Regions from separate parts of the Homo sapiens genome. Here regions 2, 3 and 4 are each reported to be linked to region 1. The links are microRNA targets in miRTarBase. Many come from high-throughput screens and were not tested one by one. Region 1 holds a microRNA gene; each other region holds the end of a gene's coding sequence.
The links. The annotated mature microRNA hsa-miR-1277-5p reads AAAUAUAUAUAUAUAUGUACGUAU and lies in region 1 at 1,237-1,260, opposite strand. An mRNA with a match to its seed (bases 2 to 7 or 8) in the 3' UTR can be bound and repressed. Matches are read on the target gene's strand: a 7mer-m8 pairs with bases 2 to 8, a 7mer-A1 pairs with bases 2 to 7 and ends in A, and an 8mer does both.

Region 2: the mRNA of RGMB is a reported target of hsa-miR-1277-5p. Seed matches in the 3' UTR shown: 7mer-m8 at 373-379, 7mer-m8 at 386-392, 8mer at 597-604 and 7mer-m8 at 974-980.
Region 3: miRTarBase lists SPPL3 as a target of hsa-miR-1277-5p. The part of its 3' UTR that is shown has no 7-base or 8-base seed match.
Region 4: the mRNA of PPIP5K2 is a reported target of hsa-miR-1277-5p. Seed matches in the 3' UTR shown: 8mer at 889-896, 7mer-m8 at 919-925, 8mer at 1,555-1,562, 8mer at 1,960-1,967 and 8mer at 3,463-3,470.

The regions. Positions count from the first base shown.
Region 1 is chrX:118,383,509-118,387,660 of GRCh38, reverse strand. It overlaps MIR1277 (microRNA 1277), which reads right to left and starts at 1,267; the gene lies at 1,190-1,267. WDR44 (WD repeat domain 44) reads right to left here. Exons shown (of 20, transcript NM_019045.5): 3 at 247-321.
Region 2 is chr5:98,793,436-98,797,435 of GRCh38, forward strand. It overlaps RGMB (repulsive guidance molecule BMP co-receptor b), which reads left to right. Exons shown (of 3, transcript NM_001366508.1): 3 at 1-3,059. The coding sequence ends at 318. Among named protein-coding and RNA genes, the nearest start is that of RGMB, 22 kb to the left of the region's middle.
Region 3 is chr12:120,761,724-120,765,723 of GRCh38, forward strand. It overlaps SPPL3 (signal peptide peptidase like 3), which reads right to left. Exons shown (of 11, transcript NM_139015.5): 11 at 787-3,347. The coding sequence ends at 3,276. Among named protein-coding and RNA genes, the nearest start is that of ACADS, 38 kb to the left of the region's middle. RefSeq lists a silencer at 1,375-1,538.
Region 4 is chr5:103,201,386-103,205,385 of GRCh38, forward strand. PPIP5K2 (diphosphoinositol pentakisphosphate kinase 2) reads left to right here. Exons shown (of 31, transcript NM_001276277.3): 31 at 137-4,000. The coding sequence ends at 249. Among named protein-coding and RNA genes, the nearest start is that of MACIR, 55 kb to the right of the region's middle.

The sequences.
Region 1 (4,152 bases):
CAAGAACAAAAAATAAAAGCATTTTACAAAATATTGTCTCAAGGATAAATTACCAATTAGAATATGAAAAGGACTTCTAAAAAGACTGAAATGTCTTCAACCACAAATGTGACAGATTCATGAAACATTTGCTGAACATCAGCCATGTACAGAGCGCTATACTAAAAGAATATAAAAGCTGTTTGAAATATACCATATAAATATGATGTCTGCTATAAACTAATATTGACATTGTATCTTTCCAACCTTTTTAGACACATCTTGTTTCAATTCTTGTACAGGGGACTCATTTCCAACTTTGTATGCAGTGTTCTCTGTTTCCTGTTTGAAAAAGAAAAGAAATAGAGACCAAATGATGACATCTTTTCTTTAAAAATATGCTTTAAAGGGGTACAAATGAGAAAATGTAGCATTAATAAATCAAAGGCCCTTAAAGGGCTTTGATTTCTTCTTCTTCTTTTTTTTTTTTTTTTTTTTTTGAGACAGAGTTTTACTCTGTCACCCAGGCTGGAGTGCAGTGGCACAATCCTGGCTCACTGCAACCTCTGCTTCCCGGGTTCAAGTGATTCTCCTGCCTCAGCCTCCCGAGTAGCTGGGATTATAGGCGCGTGCCACCACACCTGGCTAATTTTTGTAATTTTAGTACAGACAGAGTTTCACCTTGTTGGCCAGGCTGGTCTTGAACTCCTGACCTCAAGTGATCTACCCACCTCAGCCTCCCAAAGTGCTGGGATTATAGGTGTGAGCCACTGTGCCCAGCCTAAAGGGCTTAGATTTCTGAATACTGATAGATGCTCAGAAATTTTATGCCAAATGGGACAATGTAATTTGCATAAGAAAGTTACCCATCAGCAATATTCTATTATTCTGCAATAGGATATTTACCTTTAAATGTGAAAACTTGCTCAACTTTTTAACATTAAAAAACTGTAATGGACGATAAGAACTTCTACGTACTTTTATAGCTAAAAAGGATTAAGGATTTAAGCAAGGGGCTGAATAAAAATTGTTATTTTCCCCAAAGCATTGCTCCATAAATATGCACAAATACAAAAGTTTATAACACAGAAAACCACATTCAGGGAATAGTTTTCTTAAAATTCTACATGCTTTAGATAAAAGAAATCAAGACTTAACCAGAAGTTAAATGAAGCCCCTAAAAAAACTATGAAAAAAGATGAAAAAAATTAAACCCACCAAAAATACATATATATCTACGTATACATTTATATACACATACGTACATATATATATATATTTGGGAGGTTAGAAATGGATACTGCATTTCTGCTGGAAAAAATTAGGGTAAAATAAGACAATCATATATTTGCAAATCTCAATACAATACTCTTCTCAATCTTAAGTTGTCTATTTATAGAAGCACAGCAATTTGAATGCTACTCTTGATACTGAGGAAAAAAAACCATAATTCTTTGTGCACATCACAGAGTTTGTTAGAGGAAGGTCATTATAACCATTTTAGACAGATAAAGGACTCAAGGCACATTAATTATTTAGGTGGCACTTATACAAGTATCAGGATATGATCACAATAGGCTCAATAATGAAATTACTCCAGAGATTATTAAAATGTTAAAGATTTAACGTGCCAGTGAAATTTCTGTAGGACTTGCAATATCTTCGAGCACTGAATTCCTCCCCCAGAATTTGGAGAATACTACCAATCTTACACAGATTCTTCTAGAAAAAAAAAAATGTTTCATGGACTCTTAAGTATTAGATAAAATCCAAACAGTACCAAGGCCCATGAAGGCCTAAACATGACATAGCCTCTGCCTACATTTTTGATATCTTCTACACTCCTCATCTCCCTCTCATATCACTCCCCCACAATTACATTCTGGCCAATAGGATGATTCCTTGCCATTAGGGTCATAGCTCAAGTGCTATTTTATCAGAAAATACTTCCCTGACCATCTCAAAATAGCCTTAGCTGACTCCTTAACTTTCTATCACATTATCCTATTTTTCTTTTTTTTTTTAACTTTAAGTTCAGGGGTACATGTGCAGATTTGTTACACAGGTAAACTTGTGTCATGGGGTTTTGTTGCACAGATTATTTCATCACCCAGGTATTAAGCCTAGTACACATTAGTCATTTTTCCTGATCCTCTCCCTCCTCCCACCCTTCACCCTCTGATAGGCCTCAACATGTGTTGTTCCCCTCTATGGGTTCATGTGTCCACATCATTTAGCTCCCACCTATAAGTGAGAACATGCAGTATTTGGTTTTCTGTTCCTGCATTGATTTGCTAAGGATAATGGCCTCCAGCTCCATCCATGGCCCTGCAAAGGACATGATCTCGTTCTTTTTTATGGCTGCATAGTATTCCATGGTGTATATGTACTACATTTTCTTTATCCAGTCTATCATTGATGGGCATTTAGGTTGATTTCATGTCTTTGCTATTGTGAATAGTGCTGCAATGAACATGTGTGTGCATGTGTCTTTATAATAGAATGATTTATATTCCTTTGGGTATATACCCAGTAATGGGATTGAGGAGAGGATGTCAAACTATCCCTGTTTGCAGACAACATGATCTTATATCTAGATAACCCATAGTCTCAGCCCAAAAGATTCTTAAGCTGATAAACAACTTCAACAAAGTCTCAGGATACAAAATAAATGTGCAAAAATCACTAGCATTATTATACACTAATAACAGCCAAGCAGAGAGCCAAATCAGGAATAAACTCCCATCATTTGCAATTGCCACGAAAAGAAAATACCTATGAATACAGCTAACTAGGGAGGTGAAAGGAGAACTACAAACCACTGCTCAAAGAAACCAGAGATGACACAAACAAATGGAAAAACATTCCAAGCTCATGGATAGGAAGAATCAATATCGTTAAAATGGCCACACTGCCCAAGGCAATGTATAGACTTAATGCCATTACTATTAAACTACCACTGAGATTCTTCACAGAACTAGGAAATTTTATTTTAAAATTCATAGGGAACCAAAAAAGAGCCTGAATAGCCAAGGCAAATCCTAAGCAAAAAGAACAAAGCTGGAGGCATCATGCTACCCGACTTCAAACTATGCTACAGTGCTACAGTTACCAAACAGCATGGTACTGGTACAAAAAGAGACACACAGACCAATAGAACAGAATAGAGAATACAGAAATAAGACCGCACACCTACAACTATCTGATCTTCGACAAACCTGATGAAAACAAAGAATGGGGAAAGGCTTCCCTACTCAATAAATGGTGCTGGGAAAACATTATCCTATTTTCCTTCATTGCACTTATCGTTCGAAATGACCTTATTTACTTGCTTATTTTTTGTCTCTTCCCTGTCCCACTAGAATGTAAGCTCCATGAGAGATGGACCTTGTTTGTTCTATCTACAGTTTGTTCAGTACCTAAAACAGTGTCCAGCACTAAATAATCATTTGCTGAATGAATGTTGAATGATGCATGCTCTGTTTTTTCTTCAGTTAATACATACATCTTAAGTTTACATAGGCTTTAATTGGATCCTGGTTTTATATGAAAGAAGGCCGGGCACAGGCTGAAACCCGGAGTTTGAGACCAGCCTGGGCAACACAGTGAGACCTCGCCTCTAAAAAAAATAATAATTAGCCAAGCATGGTGGTATGTGCCTGCAGTCCCAGCTACTTTGGAGGTTGTTGTGGGAGGACTACTTGAGCCTAGGAGCCTGAGGCTGCAGTGAGCTATGATAATGCCACTGCATTCCAGCCTGGGGAAGAAAGCAAGACCCTGTCTCAAAAAAAAAAAAAAAAAAAGAAATTAAAAAAAAGAAATAAAAATCTAACCAAGACCAATTGATAAGATAACCTTGACAAGGTGGAGAGAGAATACTTGGAAGCTGATCACCATTAAGAGAATACTTGGTCCAGCCTGGGACAGAGCGAGACTCTGTCTCCAAAAAAAAAAAAAAAAAGAATACTTGGAAGCTGATCACCATTAAGAATAGTTGATGCTCTCAGCAGAACGGGGTCCGCAGGAAAAAAGAAAAAAATAAATAAATAAATAACAGTTAATGCATATTAGAGAAACACCTTCAACTGTCCTACTAATTATTTTTATCCAATTATTTTCTAATAACTGTTTATCAGTAGGAAAATCAGAAGCATTGTACAGCATAATTCTGTG
Region 2 (4,000 bases), not on the chromosome of region 1:
CTGGGACACAGCCTGCCTCGCACCTCCTTGGTGCAGGCCTGGCCTGGCTACACACTGGAGACTGCCAACACTCAATGCCATGAGAAGATGCCAGTGAAGGACATCTATTTCCAGTCCTGTGTCTTCGACCTGCTCACCACTGGTGATGCCAACTTTACTGCCGCAGCCCACAGTGCCTTGGAGGATGTGGAGGCCCTGCACCCAAGGAAGGAACGCTGGCACATTTTCCCCAGCAGTGGCAATGGGACTCCCCGTGGAGGCAGTGATTTGTCTGTCAGTCTAGGACTCACCTGCTTGATCCTTATCGTGTTTTTGTAGGGGTTGTCTTTTGTTTTGGTTTTTTATTTTTTGTCTATAACAAAATTTTAAAATATATATTGTCATAATATATTGAGTAAAAGAGTATATATGTATATACCATGTATATGACAGGATGTTTGTCCTGGGACACCCACCAGATTGTACATACTGTGTTTGGCTGTTTTCACATATGTTGGATGTAGTGTTCTTTGATTGTATCAATTTTGTTTTGCAGTTCTGTGAAATGTTTTATAATGTCCCTGCCCAGGGACCTGTTAGAAAGCACTTTATTTTTTATATATTAAATATTTATGTGTGTGCTTGGTTGATATGTATAGTACATATACACAGACATCCATATGCAGCGTTTCCTTTGAAGGTGACCAGTTGTTTGTAGCTATTCTTGGCTGTACCTTCCTGCCCTTTCCCATTGCTACTGATTTGCCACGGTGTGCAGCTTTTACTCGCCACCTTCCGGTGGAGCTGCCTCGTTCCTTTGAACTATGCCCTCACCCTTCTGCCCTCACTTGATTTGAAAGGGTCGTTAACTCTCCCTTACAGGTGCTTTGACTCTTAAACGCTGATCTTAAGAAGCTCTCTTCATCTAAGAGCTGTTACTTTTTCAGAAGGGGGGGTATTATTGGTATTCTGATTACTCTCAATTCTAATTGTTATATATTTGAGCCCATACAGTGTATTAGGTTGAACCATAGAAACTGCTATTCTCGTAGGTCAAAAGGGTCTAGTGATGGAAGTTTTGTAGATAAGTACCAGGCATCTCAGTAACTCCTAGACTTTTTCTCATCCCATGCCCCGTTTTAAATTGTCAGTTTTCCCTCTGACTCTTCTGTGTTAAAACATGAAACTATAAATTTAGTAATTATCATGCCTTGCTCTTTTTAATCTATATGACTGATGCAAGCCCCTCTTCTTAACCGTTTCTTGGCTTTGAGCCCAGAAACACAGCTCTCCCTGTCTCCAACTCCAGTAAGCCCTCCTCAGCCTCACCTTACGAATCCAAAGAACTGGGGTTTGTTAGGTTCTTTCTCTAATGTAGAGGCCCAGATCCCATCACAAAGTTTTTCATTCTTCCTTGTCCACCATGATCTTCATCACAGTCTTTGATATGTCTGCATGCAAAGTGGAACAGAGTTGGGCGGCAATGACAGAAGAGCTTCCTTGGCCTGACTCGGTGTGCGGCCACTTCGGCACTGCTTAATCCAGATATTCTTGTTAACTAAGCATTGTGCTTCCCAGGTGGTCTGAAGTCAGGTACTCTCTCTCTCAACACCTGTAGTTGAATATGATTTGGTCAGTTGCTCGTTGTAACTTGGAGAAATTCCTATAAAGTAAGATCTCCTTGCCTCTTCCATCCATTGTTGGCACCCCCTTGCAAAAGGAAAAGAACAGCAAAAGTCAGGAGCAGTAATCTGAGAAAGTTAACTCCAGGATAGGTAGGTTTCTATTGTTATAGCTAGATGTAAATCTTTAGTTCCAAGAAGTGATAGAGTTTCTGCTTTAATAATTTGTTGATAAGTTTACATAAACAGAAATAAAAGATACTATCTTTACCGTAGTAGTTCAGGCCAAGATTATGCTTAGTTTTAGTTCTCCAGGTAGTTACTTTTGCCATGTCCTATTGATCAGTGACACTGCCAGAGGCCCATACCGGCAAGAGGAAGAGGACGTCATTTTGTAAAGTTTAACTTCTTAGCGAACTGATGTGCCACCCAGTCACAGAGTGGAGTTGTGAATTCATGTAGAGGTGGCAAACCTCTACCTTGTGTTGATGAGAGAATAATCTTGGGCAGTCTGGGAAAATAAGGAAGGCATCTCCTTCTTACTCATGGAGATTCAACTATAGAGAGTTGAAACCTAAACCCGCCTTCCTTTTATAGAAGCTGGACTAGAGACGGACTGACCATCAGCTCTGAACTGTGGCTTTTTTTGTTCACCTATGATGCCATGTACCAAATTCAGAAGCTATCGTTAATAATTTGTTTTATAATTGAGTAGTACAAGCGAGGAAAAAATACGGAGGATAACCACTATTTTTGTGCAAATAATATGAAAGTGAAGTAAAAGCAATAGAAGAAATTTCTATAGGATCTGGGTTTAGAGTGTGTATCATTAATAAATATACCTTTGCTCTTTTCAGGGAAAATAACAACCACCCTTACTGATAGTTGGGAAAAGAAGATTGGGTTATTTTGCCATATCATTTAGCTGGAAGTGACATTTAAAAGCACCCTGCATCACTAGTAATAGTGTATTTTGCTATTCTGCCCTTGTAATCGGTGTCCCTGTAAAACAATCCCCACAGATTACTTTCAGAAATAGATGTATTTCTCTACGTAAGGGCCAGGTTTATTTTCTCCTTTTTTGAGATTTCTAGAAAAAATGCTGCTTGCACATGTTGGTTCTTGAAACCTTAGCTAGAAGAATTTCAGGTCATACCAACATGTGGATAGGCTATAGCTGTTCAGAGGTCTCCTGGGGGAGCTTAAAACGGGGGAAACACTGGTTTTCACAGATGCTCCACATGGCTGTCTTTAAAAGACTCAAAACTTTTTTTTGTCCTCTTTGTTATGCTTGGAAGCTCCCCCCCCCCCAACAGTGTGTCGAGTCTTTGCAAAGAAACCTTTAGATGTGGTTCATAGATATATGAATACGTATCTGTGTAAAACAGTGAGTGTGCAGTGTGTAAATACTTTAAATTATTATGCTAGAAAAATAAAGTTACATACCTTGCTGTGGAATGTCTGTTCTGTGATTATAGGGACACCTGCTGGAAGAACTGAGAGCTGCAGAAGAAAGGGAGTCGGGGGAGGGGGAATTGTATAAAATCCCTAAAGGTTACTGATAAGTCATGCCACCTGCCCACAAATTCGCTGATTTTCAAAACTATAGCATTACTGTCATTTTTTTTCTTTTGAAATTTTAAGCAGTTACAAATCCGTATCAGTGAGATTGGTCCACTAGTATTGTCCCAAAGTTCTGTCTTTAGTAACAGTTTTGGTCCCTTGAAGACATACAGCCTGCACTCTAGTTCTTTTTAAGGTGATGTGAACAGTAACGACTTCCTCCTGGTGGGGAGGATTTGGGAAGGCAGGATTTTCTGGCTTTGAAAACAAATCCTCACTTCTTGGGTTTTAAAAAGAGACATCAAGAGATCACAAGTTGGTCTTTGTTCAAGAAACACACCAAAGGGTAGAAAAGTTAGGAAAATAACTGAAACAAAAGGCACAGAGAAGCACTGTTACTTGTATTAGGTAGAATACTAAATGGATCAGATTCTGACTGGGATAAACATACATGTAATCATTTCTTCTTTTTTTTTTTTTTTCTTTTGGAGACAGGGTCTCACTCTGTCACCCAGGCCAGAGTGCAGTGGTGCAGTCTCAGCTCACTACAGCCTCAACTTCCAGGGTTCAAGTGATCCCCCCGAGTCGCTGGGGCTACAAGTGCATGCTACCATCCCCAGCTAATTTTTGTATTTTTTGTAGAGACTGAAGGCAGGGTTTCACCATGTTGCCCAGGCTGGTCTCAGACTCCTGGACTCAAGCAATCCGCCTGCTTCAGCCTCCCAAAGTGCTGGGATTACAGGCATGAGCCACCACACCTGGCCATAATCGTTTCTTAAAGAAAAAAGCTTAACCATTGCAGTTGACTATTTACATGTAGCAGTTCAGAGCAAAAA
Region 3 (4,000 bases), not on the chromosome of region 1:
AAAACAGAAACGTACACACAACATGGGATCTGGTGAGCAGTAACGTGAGAGCTGCTAAGCAGACACAGCAGGTTCTATTTTTAACACTTGATTGGCAAAATGGAACTCCCTTCCCCTCCACCCTCACAGAGAACGAGTACTTTTGTTTTTCTTGTGGGTGACCTAACTTACCTGTTTACCCAAGGCCTGTGAGCCTGCTACAAAAGTAATTCAGACAGTAGCTTAGTCCCAAGCCACCGAACCGTTCCTATGCGGGGAGCTGTCACTGTCACATTCAGAAAGCGTATGCACTGTAATAACAGCAATGGAACACACTAGGCTTTGGACAGACTTTACTGTCATATCTTCATTAGCTCAAACTAGAAAAAAGAGTTATTAAAAAGCGGGAGTTCTAGTAACACACAGTCTCTTTGTGAGGAAAAAGGACTTCAGATCAGTGAGGAAGGAATCTGCTGAAATTTCATGAGCATGCCATGCCTAATGCAGCAGACTTCCTAGAAAACCCCTAAACCATGGTATTTGAGAAAACAGAATAAGAGGCGGACCTAAGTGTATCAGGCAGCGGGGAGCAAACGAGCACTGGAAGGGAAGTCTAATGTGTGCTTTAACTGCAGCCACCCACTCAACCCTCCGAGACGAGTAGAGTATTTGCTGTTTCTCTGCCAAAGTTTTAAGGGAGTGTTTTAAGGGCTTTGAAGATTAGCAACTGGAATCCAGGGTGCATTCACAGCCCTGTGTGGGTATTTCCCCCCAAAACCTGCACAGAAGTGAGAATGACAAAATAACGACGTTCCTTCTGTCTGGAATTTAATTTTCTTATGAAAACAAAGACAGAAAAATTAAAATGACCCACTGCCAGGATAACATTTCCTTTTTTTTTTTTTTTTTGAGATGGAGTCTCACCCTGTCGCCCAGACTTGAGTGCAGTGGCGCAATCTCTGCTCACTGCAACCTCCGCCTTCCAGGTTCAAGCGATTCTTCTGCCTCAGCCTCCCAAATAGCTGGGATTACAGGCGCCTGCCACCATGCCCAGCTAATTTTTGTGTTTTTAGTAGAGACGGGGTTTCACCATGTTGGCCAGGCTGGTCTCGAGCTCCCAACCTTGTGATCCACCTGCCTCGGCCTCCCAAAGTGCTGGGATTACAGGCATGAAGGATAACGTTATTTCTACCCATCACTGGCACTTGCCCTTAATCCGAGTCATTTTGGAGCCCCCCTCTCTGTCTCTGGGCCTGCTTAATTAGCTATATGCATCCTCGAGGGCTGAGAAGGAAGGAAGGGAGAGTCCGCAAGTGGATTTTTAGTCTTCACCCAATGCAGAGGCAGTTTTGAGTTCTGTGGACAGCAGAAGCTTCAGTTCTTTGATGTATCTATGACTGGGCCAGAGCTGCAGATGACCAGGTCTGGGGACAGACAGAGTCTTCCCATCAGTCTTCCAGAACAGGGAGGAGATGGCTGGGAGCTCTGTTTGGTACCAACAACCAAAGTGAAGATTATGTGACAAAGGCTACAAAGGAGTCATTTATTAAAAACAAAACCCCAGAAACCCCTCAGCAGGAATTGATGACAACAACAGAGGAATCCAACACCCTGACTGCTTCAGACTCTGTTGACAACAGGATGGGTGCCCCCTGTGAGCTCGATCCACAGTGACTTCAAGCCACAGTGACACAGCACACTAATTCATTACACAGGTCAAGACAGAGGCAGCCACTGGGGCGGGGACCCTTGGGGAGAGGCTGGAACTCAGGGCCCTTCTCCAGCCTTTGTTGTCAGGCATCCTCATGCCAACCGCAGGCTTCTCTTTGCCTCTGAACAATGGGCACCTTCTTACCAGGCAGGGGCTGCTTAGGTAAAGGTCAGCAGACCTAACACTAGTTACTCCCAGAAATCTGGGCTTGCAGCAGAGACCACAGCACAGGGCCAGGCTCTCAGGACACAGCAGCTGGTTCTTTCCCCAGTTACTGGAATTTAGGGCCCATCTCAGAGGGGCATTTGACATGTGTCCCCAACACCCGGTTGTCACCACAGGTAAACCAAGACTATAATCACAACAGCAAGGACAGGATTGTGTTGCTTTTTTCCTTTTTTTTTTTCTTAAAGGAGTGAGGGCATGGAAAATATACAGCACACCAATGAAACAAAATGTCAAAAAAAAAAATACAAAAAAATAGAAAATAGAAAAATGTATTTACAAGTAGTACGTTACTATGATGAGAAAGCACAAAGACACCTGCTGCTATAATACATGCATTGGCTCGAGAAGAAACTACGGAACACCCTGCGAGGGAGAAGCCTAGAAAAGAAAGAAAGGGCCAAAAGGTTTGAACTCTTCATCCCTAATTTGCTACACTGATCAAAACCAAGTAAGGGCTCCTGAAGTCCATGAGTCTATCATCAATCAGCACAAATGCTATACTAGTTTGTAACTGCGGGGTCAGTTGTGAAGGGGAAGGACAGCAGCTTATCCATATACAAGGAAGCCACAGTAAACTGCTCGACATGCTCAAAACGACAGCAAGCCCCTGTCAGCTACACAGCGTGATCTTAGCAGGATTTCATTTTTGTTTATTCATATATATCTATGTGTGTGTTTATATATATATATGTACGTATGTATAAAAACCGTGCCCTTGTTCACTGCCAACACAACATCTGGGTGGACATGAACTCATTACAACAAATTCTTATGTGGATGTTGTAAGAAGTCACTCAATGTCTGTGGATTTAATAAGTCACTTCACACCACAGAAAATATTTAATAAATCCAAAAAAAGGAAAGAAGAATATAACGACAGAAGAGCTTCTGTCTCAGTTCTCTGAAACTGAGTCCCCTATAGGAAACTGGTCCCAAAGTTCTCGAGGGGTCATTGAAGAAACTTCGGTTTGCTAATTTTTTTCATCCTTTTAGTGTTCAAAAGTTCTAGAAAGACTCCTCGCTGTTTTCAGTTTTTAAACAGTCAAATCTCCATCTCCCCCAGAAGGTAACAGTCTGGTGCAGATCCATAAAAACGTGGGAGGAAGGCGCGCTGGGGAGAGGCCTGTCCCTCTTGGAAGGGGCCCCACCTCTACATCCGCAGGAAGAGAAGGAACCAAACAGGGCTCCAGCACCTCTCTCCTGCAAACGAGCTCCCTTTAAATGCCAAATCCAGTCACACGGCAGTTCCTTAAACACAGGTACATTTCTGAGTACCAGGCCAGCTCTAAGAGGAAACAAACCATGAGTTGAGAGAAAAGGACTATGACGGCCATCTGGTCACTTTCCACGTGATCCATCATACTTCCAGGAATCGGGAGCTGCTGGACTTGGAGTGGAAAGGCTCAGACCACATCCGCCGGAGGTCGCCCTGGGAAACAAGGGACTTTCTAAGTTACAGATTTAAACATGAGGCACACACAGCTGTCTGATTCTTTAAAAAAAAAAAATTTTTTTTCCAGGTATGAAGTCTTCCTATATATTGGCCAGGCTGGTCTCAAACTCCTGGGCTCGGGCAATTCTCCTGCCTCGACCTTCCAAAGTGCTAGGATTACAGGCATGAGCTGCTGCGCTTGGCCCCTTTCTGATATTTTTTTTTTTTGAGATGGGTTCTCACTCTGTCACCTAGGCTGGAGTGAGTGCAGTGGCGAGATCTCAGCTCACTGCAACCTCCGACTCCTGGGTTCAAGCGATTCTCTTGCCTCAGCTTCCTGAGTAGCTGGGATTACAGGCACTCACCACCATGCCCAGTTCATTTTTGTGTTTTTAGTAGAGACAGGGTTTCACCATATTGGCCAGGCTGGTCCTGAACTCTTAACCCGCCTGCCTCAGCCTCCCAAGGTGCGGGGGTTACAGGCGTGAGCCACCATGCCCCTGGCCCCTTTCTGATGCTTGATCTGAGATCAGATTGCTTCTGTGGGAAACCAAAGAGCATTTAAATCTTACCCATTCAAAAATAACCCACTATTTTTAGGAGGACTCCCTAGAAGGGGTGCTTTTAGGCTCCCTGAGCAAGAAAAGGGC
Region 4 (4,000 bases), not on the chromosome of region 1:
TATATTAAATTTTTACATTTCATTTACATCACAATTATAACAAGAATTGTTTTGTCAATCAGCAGTATTATTTGAACTTGGATTGTTTGTGTAAATTTAAGCAATAGTTTTTTTTTTTTGTTTTTGTTTTATGTAGCTACAAGTGGACCTTCTAGTGCAGTTGTTCCTAATACCTCATCTCGGAAAAAGAATATAACTAGCAAAACAGAAACGCATGAACACAAAAAAAACACTGGGAAAAAGAAATGAAATCTTAGCAGAAGCTGGAACTTTTTATACTTATAAAAATAGTATGTTCTTATGTTTCTCCTTATGCATTTATGTGTTCACTTAAAAATGTTTTTAAATCTAAGGTTTTCTTTGTTTATGTTCAGGTAAGGAACTGTTGTCATGATCTGGAAATGTTTAAAACAATGTTTGTTAGCATTCTGTGAGCAGCAAAACTTATAGTGATAAAAATCGATTGTTGTTAATATGATGTTTACCATGTGCACATAGTAATGAAAAGGAACATAAAAGCCCAGCAGGCTCGTACCAAAGTCACAGCAGTAATGCTATGTACTGCAGAGTCTGATGAGCTGGCCTTTGTGCACACTTTTATTTTCATGGGATTGCATCTTAGCTGTTAAAACTTCTAGATTGAAATTTGACAGCCAGGGTTACATATTGGGGACTTTTAAAGTGTCTTTCCAAAGAGATTTCATTAACCGTTTAGATTAGAATATCTTTCCCAATTGTTACAGTGACATATATGCTGCAATATTTAACAACTGGAGTATTAGCCACATGGGTTATTTTTTCAATCTGTGTTTTGAATTTTTTTATTGTGTGTTATTTAAAATATTACATATGCAGCTGGGAGAACTACACCTTTGTGCACATAGATTTATATATTAATTTGTAGAAAATATTTTCTTTATATATTTCCTTACCATACAAGGTGCCTTGTTCATCAGGAAAACTTTTGTTTTGTATTTTGACAAGAAAGGCACCTTCAGAGTTTCTTTTTAAGTATAGTTGACAAGTGTATAAATGTTACACTTACTTTCAGAGTTCTTTTTAGATCTAAAGAAGTCAGTTCAAAAATGGAAATCAACAATGTTAGGAGAAATCTGAATTCTGTTAAGTTAGTAAGTATTATGTATAGCATCTGTTTTTAACCATTTCCATTCTTATCCCTAGTGTATCAGTTGATCACACTAAGAAAGCTTAAAGATTGAGCATTTGAAATAAATGCTCTTTATAAATGATTAGATTTTTGAAGGGATATTGAAATCATTGCGCTGTGATTTCATCTGTGATGTGAAAAATCAATTTATTATCCTTGGTGCTTTCCCCCCCACCAATGCACAAATAATTGTGAACAGCTTGAAATGACTTAAACTGTAATCCAAATGGGACAATCTGATAAGAATTTCATGCATTGGTAGTTAAATAACTTAAATTGCTAAAGCTTTAGCTTGAAATTTATGTTTAGAAAAACTATTGATTTCCCATGGTATGAATATAACTATTGTAATTCTTCAAATGAGACTCTTCTCACCTTAAATAGTCATATATTAATTAACTTATAGGAAATAAGCATACTATATGTTAGCTGTTTTAAAAGGTACCAGATGTAAGAGTCATAAATATATGCAATTAAAGAAGTTCATAGATTTCACATGAATGTAAATGTGTTATATGGAGACATGTCTTGTAAACAGTTGAATGTATGTAAGTTTTCTGTTTGTGAAAATGTAGTTAATGTACTCACTGTGGAGGTCATAAGGAAGCTACTTTTTTTTTAAAGTGGAACCTAATTAAAATATTTCCAGAATCAAAGAGACTTAAATGGTAAATTTTTAAAATTTTCTTATCTCTTACTTTTTAGTTTTCAAAGTAGAAAAAATCAGGAATTTTTTTATTAACTAGTACTTACATATTAAATAAAATTTATTATTGGCTATATACATAGCAATATATTACTTTCCAAACTAGAAAGTACAGTACAACTAACTTTTTCCATTGTTATGCAAGAACTATTACTTTCCTGTAGTCACCAAACTCAGTAGTATTGCTCTGTAGACTAGACACTCTATTTGTAAAAATCTTAGAATCACTTTCCAAAACAAATAAAAAGTCTACTGTATCAGAGCAAAATGTTATAGTTATCACTGTTTAGTGGCAGTTTGACTGAAGCATCTGTTTCTCACTTGATTCTGTCCTGAGAAGATGTGGGATTTTTTGGTTTTAAATACTAGAAGATATTTCTTCTTAGAGCCCAGTCCTCCATCCCAAAGAGGTGAACTAGCCCAGCATGAAGAATTGTCTAGTCACCCTGAGATATTAATCTTCATAATGTATTATTCAGTTCCTTCACCCTTAAAAGCCATATAATAGGCTCAGACCTAACTTAGCCCTTGAAGTCTAGTGCTGGCAGATTCTGCTGCCCTGGTTTAAATGAGTTACGTAGTCCATTCTCAAATACTAGCAAATTTGGGGGGCGTGGTACAGCAATTTTGGGTGAAGAAAAGTGTGCTGAACACCTTATGTCAGTGATAGACAAGATATAGAGGCTGAAGGGAATACAGTAAAGTAACAAAAACATGTGGCAGTGTGCTTAGCATAAACATAGAGCACAAAGGCAATAGATGGAAATTATGAGAGAAAAGTTAAAGTTCTTCAAGAAATATCCAATTAAAACTCACTAGCCAAGGAAAAAGTTTCTGTTTTCACCCGGATTTCTTTTTGGGTTGACTCTGTCTGACCTAAATGTCCACTGTTAACTAGTGCCATGCCAGTTTGAACCAAGATTTCACATTTTTGTTTTGTATTCATACTTTGGTAGAAATTTCTCAGTCTTTGTGTATTTATAAGAATTTGCTTTACACATAGTGTACAGTGTTTATTAACTTTACATCATTTTATCCTTGCCTTACTATCTGGACAGTGTAGACTGCCTATATTCTTAGTTGGGGTTGGGATCTCTTCTCTTAGAGTGGCCCAGCAGTTTTAGCCCCTCTCTAATTCTCTTTTCCTGTGTTGGGAGATATCAAAACAACAGAATTCTTGCCAGTGGGAACATTTTTCTTTTTTAGACAAGGTCTCATTCTGTCACCCCAGCTGGAGTGCAGTGGCACAGTCTTAATTCACTACAGCCTTGAACTCCTGGGCTCAAGAAATCTTTCTGCTTCAGCCTCCTAAATAGCTGGTACTATAGGTGCGTGCCACCACACCCAGCTCATGGGAATAATTTTTACACTCCTTCAGAAGGAGTCATTTGTGATTGGAGTCCACATAGAAACAGGTTTCCCTCTGTACATAATCGTAGGTACCAAAATATTACTGTGTAAAGTGTTGTTTATATAGGTCAATTTTTGTGGAAGATCTAATTTCTATTTTCAGAGAACAGAGCACATTAAAAAATCTATTTAGTATTGTGTACTATATAATCTATGTGAATTATAGCTCCTTAACTAAATATATTACTGAGTTTTTTTTTTAATACTGTAAGTTCTAGGGTACATGTGCACAATGTGCAGGTTTGTTACATAGGTATACATGTGCCATGTTGGTTTGCTGCACCCATGAACTCATCATTTACATTAGGTATTTCTCCTAATGCTATCCCTCCCCCAGCCCCCCACCCACTGACAGGCCCAGTGTGTGATGTTCCCCGCCCTGTGTCCAAGTACTGTTCTCATTGTTCAGTTCCCTCTTATGAGTGAGAACATGCGGTGTTTGGTTTTCTGTCCTTGTGATAGTTTGCTGAGAATGATGGTTTCCAGCTTCATCCATGTCCTTGTCATCCTTTTTTTTGGCTGCATAGTATTCCATGGTGTATATGTGCCACATTTTCTTAATCCAGTCTATCATTGATGGACATCTGGGTTGGTCCCAAGTCTTTGCTATTGTGAATAGTGCCACAATAAACATACGTGTGCATGTGTCTTTATAGTGGCATGATTTATAATCCTTTGGGTATATACCCAGTAATGGGATGGCTGGGTCAAATGGT